Linked DNA regions of Homo sapiens. The protein of the gene in region 1 purifies or fractionates together with the protein of each later gene. This does not show direct contact. Each region holds a gene or a part of one and is shown on either strand. Other genes may lie near its edges.

Region 1 (3,500 bases):
GGAGTTTGAGACCAAGCCTGGGCAACATAGTGAAACCCTGTCTCTACTAAAAATACAAAAGTAGCTGAGCATGGGGTCACATGCCTGTAATCCCAGCTAAGTGGGAAGCTGAGACCAGATAATCACTTGAACCAGAGAAGTGGAGGCTGCAGTGGGCTGAGACCATGCCATTGCACTGCAGCCTGGGTGACAGGAGCAAAACTCTGTTTCAAAAAAAAAAGAAGAGAAACACAAATAAACTCCTCTGACTAAAAACTAAACACAAAATTTTAGACAAGGCAGATCCTAAGAACATGTTTGAGAGACTCCCAGAATCTCTAGCCAAGATAATTGTTTTCAGACTATGTCAGAAAAAAACACATTTTAAAGACTGTGACAGGTAGCTTTTTTTGATGTCCAAATCTCATTCCAAGATTACAATGTATACAAAACAGGGCAATATAATTTCATCAAAAATACCGTATAAACTTCAGAAAGAAACCATAAAAAAGATGTACACATTTTAAACACTCATAAGTTGAATAATATCCAATGAGTGAAACAGGAACACAGTCCACTGTAGAAAGTCACAAAAATGAGAATAAATACAAGAATATCAAAATATTAAAAAAAACAATTTGGTGGTAAAAAGTAGAAAAATAAACAACTGGAAAATCCTAAAAGAAAAATGATGTAAAAATGAAGTTCAACAAACAAATTAGGATACACACACAGATATTTAAACAGATACATATTAAGCACATTTTCAAAAATCAAAGACAAGAAGAAAGTCTTAGGAGCTACAAGGTAAAAGTAATGTGTCATTTACAAACATAGTCTTATGATATTACCAGTGAATTATCAACAAAAATTCTGCAGATCAGAAAGATACCGTGTGACACAAAGTCCTGAGGGGAAAAAAAAAAAAAAAGCTATCAAGTTGAGGATAATACCATCAACAAATCTGTCCTGCCACATAAAAAGAAAAAACCTTCCAAAACAACCAAATTCTGAAAAAGTATATTAGCACTGCATATGCCCTACATATAAAAGATGATGAAAGCAGTTCCTTAAACTGAAAGTAAAAGTATTAAAAAAAAAAACACATAATCATATAAAAATACATTATTTTCCAGGAAAGATATGCACATACATAAAAACAGAATCTTGTGGCATTATCATAATGGTGCAGAAAACATTTTAAATGATCTCTAAATTTTGAAAAATAAAAGCACAGAAATTATAAACAACTGTTAATGAATATACAATGTAAAAACATAATTAGCAACATCAAAGACAAATTTCAGGGCAGATGTAATGAGGAAGATTTTTTTATTCAACTGAGATTTATTTTATACCAAATTAAAACTATACTGTTGTTTCTTATAGAAGTTTTATGCAACCCCCAAGGTGCCACCAAAAAAAAAAATCTGTACAAATATACAAAAGTGAATTAGAAATAAGTAAAAGCATATCAATACAAAAATCAAAAAGACACAAAGAGAGAAAATGAGAAACAAAGATGCAAGAATCAAATAAAATAATTAAAAATGTAACAGTCCGTCTTTATCAATTATTTAAATGTATATATAAAATTAACTTTCAAATCGAGACATACTTTCAACAGATTAAAAATTTTAAAAACCAAGATCCAACTTTTTTTTCTACAAGAGTCAGTAGAGATCTAATGATAAAAAACACTAAAAGGGGCAAGATGGAAGAATACATTTCATGCAAATATTAATCAAATGAGAGCAGAAGAAATCAAGATAGTATTATGCAAGCTACATCTTAAGTCAAAAACTATCATATTTTACAAAATGTACTTGAAGTTAAAACTCCAAGGAGACAAAAAAGGACATTAAAACTTACAGATTTAGGCTGGGCATGGTGGCTCACGCCTGTAATCCCAGCACTTTGGGAGGTTGAGGCAGGTGGATCACTTGAGGTCAAGAGTTCGAGACTGGCCTGGCCAACATGGTGAAACCCTGACTCTACTAAAAATACAAAAATTAGCCGGGCATGGTGGTGGGCACCTGTAATCCTAGCTACTCGGGAGGCTGAGGCAGGAGAATCGCTTGAACCTAGGAGGCAGAGGTTGCAGTGAGCCGAGATCACACCACTGCACTCCAGCCTGGGACACAGAGTGAGACTCTGTCTCAAAAAAAAAAAAAAAACAACAAAAAAAAACCACTTCAGATTTACTCACTGGGAACCTATGACAAATCTGTATACACGTCTCTCTCTCTCTCTGTGTGTGTGTGTGTGTGTGTGTGTGTGTGTATCTCACATTAGGGCTCCAAACATATAAAGCAAACATTGACAGAATAACAGAGACACATAGAGAGCAACATAATTATAGTAGGATATTTTGACACTGCATTTTCCGTAATAAAAATTAAATGAGAATATTAGTAAGGGAATAGAGGACTTCCAGGCAGTGTAAGACAATTATTTCTAACAGAGGTATAGAAAACACCCCTCAACACCAGGACACACATGGTTCTCAATAGCTAATACAACATTTTCCTTGATAGACCTCCTCTTATTACAAAAAGAAGAAAATTAAGTCTTACCAGTTTTTTTAAAACTGAAATTTTATAAATTACTTTCTATCACCAAAATGAAATGAGTATACAACGAGAAAAAAAATCTGAAAAATTAACAAATATATAGAAATTAAACAACACACTCTTGAGCATGCTCTTGTGAAAGGCTGAAAAAGGTAATACTGTAAAGATGTCCATCCTGCTCAATGCAATCTACAGATTTAATGCAATGTTTTTCAAATTTCTCACTGCATTTTTGAAGAAACAGAAACAGCAATCCCTCGAGTATACAGAATCTCTACATACAATAAAGTACCCAAAAATATTAAAAACAAAACAAAACAATGTTGGAGGCATTACAGTTCCTGATTTCAAAACACAAAGCTACAGAATTAAAACAATTTGGTATGACTATAAAGGTGAAAAAGTAGACTAATAAAATAGAATGCAGCACATATATAAACTCTCACATATATGGTCACATGAAGAGTCATTTGCATACCCACATTTATTTTAGCATTGTTACTAAAAGCCAGTAGGTAAAAGCAAGGCAAATTTCGGTCACCAAATCGTTCAGCAGATATAATTTGAAATACAAAAATGCCAATATATTACTCAGTTTGAAAAAAAGCAGGAAATATTCTAACAACTATAAAGGTAAATCTTGATGACTTTATGCAAAATAAAATGAGCCAGCCACAAACAGATTTTATGAGATATATAAAGCAGTTATACTCTTAGAAACAGAAAACAGAACGGTATTTGAAAAGTGCCAGGAAATGGGAAAAATTGGTAGTTGTTTAATGTGTATTGTAAAATTTCTAGAAATCTTTTATAAAATAATGTAAATATACTTAACATGCCTGAAATGTACAGTGTTTTTGAGTCAGGGTCTCACTCTGTCACCCAAGCTGGGGTGCATGGCACAATTACAGCTCACTGCAGCCTCAAACTTCCAGGTTCAAGTAATCC
Region 2 (4,075 bases), on another chromosome or scaffold:
TGAACAGGCTCTTGGGACGACTGCCCCTGAGAGTCAGGGTTGTAAGCGGGAGGAACATCATGAGTTGGGGAAGAATCTGGGATGGGATCTGGGGCAGCAGCAGCTGCCTGAGGAGTAGGGGGGTTAGGATTGGGGCAGTAAGCAAAGGAAGACAGTCTAGGGGATCCCATGTGCTGACTTTAGGTGTGGGAGTCGGCTTGTCTGACTTCTCAATTTGAGATGCTGGATCGGATTCTTCCCTAGTTGTCTTTAAGGGAAAGAGGAGGACAGGTCCCTGCTTCCAACAAAGAGCATAGTCTAGTTCTTCTTGAGAAACCAGACTTTTATCATTAACATATTGGATTAGGAGTTGACTCATTACACCCTCATTCGACCCATACTTTGGCCAGAAGATTGAGGGTTTGAGGATGGGACCTTGGGTCCAAATGAAACAGCAATATTTTATCATTTGCTCCTTCTTCTTATGCTTAGTCCTCTCATTATCTTTCCAGTATTTTAACATGAAACCTAGGGGACTATCAAGGGGTATATCCTTGTTACTATTTTCATCCTTCTTATTCTCTGTCTTTCTTGGGGTATTTCCCATATTGGGTCTTAGCTAGGCTCAATCCCTCATATTAGGGATTTGTTGCCTGCTGGAGGCTTGCTGTGGCTCAGTTCCTCATATTAGGAATTTCTTTTTTATCTGTCTGGAGCTTTCTGTGGCTCAATCCCTCGTATTAGAGATTTCTTGCCTATCTTTTAGCCCCACCTCCTGGAGGTTCTTCACACTCTTCTCCTTTTGCTTCATCCACTCTGGCCACTTTCCTCCTAGGAATATTTTAAGTCCCGCTTAGCATTGGGAGGACTATATAAACCCCAACATCAGGATCCTTCAGAGAAGGCTAAGCCGTATGAGGTAACCATAGACCCACAGATTGGACTCATTCACTCCACACAGCAGTAGCACTTGTTACCATTCATGAACTTTCAGCCACCAGAATATAGTGACCACCAAGGAAGTACTTTGTCACTCCTGCGACATTTCTTACCTTGGTCTGCGCACAGAGTTACCTGGCCACCATAGTGTTGCAAGTCTTTTTCTCCCCACGTTGTTGAGAGTCTGGGGTTATTCATCAGACCAGGTGGGTCTCGATTCCTTACTCATGAGGCCACTGCAACAAGGCAGTGGGATGTGTCTCCTCACAAGAGGTGATCAAAGACCCTTTCCCGGAGGACAATGTTTTCCCTGTATGGGCCACCAAATTTGTTGGAAACAAATGCTCGGTGCTGCAAAGAAGAACCAACACTGAGCCAAAGGACAAAGGGTCTCTCAGCAAGGCAAATTTACTTTTGCAGAATAGAGCTCCTGGTAAGTCTGGTTGCCACGAGAGCACCCTAAACAAAGGAAAGCAGAGGTTTTTATGTCTAACGCAGCTTGTCCCTGCTACTGTGTCCTGACTCCATTGGCTGGAGTTGGACTGCACAATCCGAACCCGGTTGGCTAACTTGCAAAGTGCAGGAATGTGGTTGCACTGGTGGGAAGGCGGGAAGATCAGTTTTGGTGGGAGAGGCTATTGCGACGGGAGAGGTAAATCACAGAGTGGGTAGCAGATGTGGAATGTGGGCTGTATGGGTAAGGACTGGCAGGAAGGTTGTTTACCAGGGTAGGGGAAACACAGAGAGTAAGGAAGTCTGGCCTTGAAAGCAGGAAACAAAGGACAAGGAAACTTAAGCAGGCTAAACTTTTGAAGAAGAATTTCTTACTGTATTTAACAATAATTTTAAACACTTATGTGGTTATTTCTAGTATTTTGTGATAATTCACCTTTAGGAAATGGTATCTCAAACCCCAAAATGCCAGAAGGTTACCTGGAAGAGAACTGGTGTCTGAAAGCAGGACGGTGGCCATGGGCATTGACACACAGGCGCCATCTGCCAGTTCACCATCTCGCTAACAGACGCCCACCATTCAGGCACTATTTGCTTCTATTAAAATAGTTTCTAGGCAGGGTGCGGTGGCTCACACCTGTAATCCCAACACTTTGGGAGGCCGAGACAGGTGGATCACGAGGTCAAGAGATCGAGATCATCCGGGCCAACATGGTGAACCACATCGCTACTAAAAATACAAAAATTAGCTGGGCGTGGTGGCACACGCCTGTAGTCCTAGCTACTTGGGAGGCTGAGGCAGGAGAATTGCTTGAACCGGGGAGGGGGAGGTTGCGATGAGCTGAGATCGCGCCACTCACTCCATCCTGGTGACAGAGTGAGACTCTGTCTCACAAAAAAAAAAGTTTCTAGTCTTATTATTTCAACATTTCAAAAAGTCTTTTTATTTTTTAAGATCTAAGTGTCTTAATTAGATGTATCCCAGGTACTAGTGTGTATCCCAAGTACTAGTCAATTAATTGTGTCATTCAAATGTGTTACTATTAGTCTTTCTTATTATACATTTTTAAAGAGGAAAATATCTGCTAGTAAATATATTCCGAATGCCAGGAAGCCTACCACGGGAGCTGATGACATACCCTACAAAGACAAAAACGTAACCTCAAGGAAAAAGACACTCCTGAGAGTAAATCTTATCTCCTGGGAAAGACAGCAGCACTGTCTTCTATGGATGCAGAAAAGGAGAAGATTTAACACACTAAGCCCTTTGGTTCACTATAATTTAGCCCATTTGCCCTGTTTCTTTGTTCTATTTCTGCATCTGTACCAATGTATGCAAAAAAGACTGAAATAAAGAACCAGAGGAAAGGCAGGAGGGAAAGCTGTGGACCCACCTCATCTTGGTTGGTCTTGCCTCTGGAAGAGCAGTGCTGTGGGGCATCTGCTGGTCTTTTTATGCTGCCACTAGCTCACTTCTCCCCCTTCTCCATTTCGTAATTCCTGTGTCTACAAACTTTGGACCTGGTAAGGTCTCTATCTTTTCCAGTAACAAAACTCCAAACATTGCCCCTGTTAAGAGTTGAGCTCTTGCTTCACACTTGATTTTCCCGTGGTGTTCTTTTTTGTTTTTTGTTTTTTTTGAGACAGAGTTTCACTCCTGTTGCCCAGGCTGGAGTACAATGGCATGATCTCAGCTCACCACAACTTCTACCTCCGAGGTTCAAGCAATTCTCCTGCCTCAGCCTCCCGAGTAGCTGGGATTACAGGCATATATCACCATGCCTGGCTAATTTTTTGTATTTTTAGTAGAGACGAGGTTTCTCCATGTTGCTCTGGCTGATCTCAAACTCCCACCCTCAAGTGATCCACCCGCCTTAGCCTCCCAAAGTGTTGAGATTACAGGTGTGAGCCATCACGCCCAGCCCCCTCGTGAGGGCTTTTGATCGTCTTTCTCTCACATCTTGATTTGTATTTTTGATCCTATCTTAGTTTCTTTCCATTCCACAAGTATTTGTTAAGTGCCTGCTGTATGCCCCATCCTATGCTCACAGCTACGTAAGTACAGATGGCTCCTTAGAGGAGGCAGTGCCTGCATGTTGAAGGCGGGTAGGAGGTGCTAATACAGCAAGGGGAAGGGAATTTCAGCAGAGGGCCCCCGAGGAAATAAAGCCCAAGAACTGGAGACGGCCGGGCTTGTCAGAGAGCAACATGGAGTTTGGTGTTGCTGAAGCCCACAGGCTGAGGCCAGGAGATGTTGCTAGGGAGGAAGGCAGAGAAGATGAGTGATCAAGAGAATGCCAGAGCTTTTCTCTTACCATTATTTTACCAGAAGCCACTTACTTAATACAATCAGACAATTCTTTAAGAAAACTGGGGAGTAGCTTGTTCTTCCAGGAAACTTGGTGCTGAAGAGAACTACCAGAGGAAAAGGTGTAAGTGACTGTGTTCTGAGAGGCATTTTTTTAAGAGTTTGACTGTTATTTTCCAGTTTCTGGCTATTACTTCTTTCACAGGTTCTAGAATATAAGTGTGCATCTTATTGGCCTACTGGCGCTAACCTGTTGAAGTTTATTGATGAATCTGCAGGGTGCCTGTGAGGAGAGCTTCACAGAGATGGCCAGACCTTGGTGAGAGAGAGTGACATCAGTGTCGTTTTACACCCTACAAAGGAGGGGCCGTATTTTGGCATGAGAAGAAGGTGCAC

The links. The genes of interacting proteins can lie anywhere in the genome.
Region 2: the proteins of ZNF492 (region 1) and HPR purify together in Homo sapiens (affinity purification with mass spectrometry; one large-scale study listed by BioGRID and IntAct). This does not show direct contact.

What each region holds. Positions count from the first base shown.
Region 1 is NC_000019.10:22,658,324-22,661,823, reverse strand, and holds part of ZNF492 (zinc finger protein 492), read right to left. Parts: intron 1-3,500. UniProt on the Homo sapiens protein: May be involved in transcriptional regulation.
Region 2 is NC_000016.10:72,061,951-72,066,025, reverse strand, and holds the start of HPR (haptoglobin-related protein isoform 1 precursor), read right to left. Parts: upstream 2,801-4,075; 5' UTR 2,771-2,800; coding exon 2,766-2,770; intron 1,270-2,765; exon of another isoform or gene 1,032-1,269; intron 1-1,031. UniProt on the Homo sapiens protein: Primate-specific plasma protein associated with apolipoprotein L-I (apoL-I)-containing high-density lipoprotein (HDL).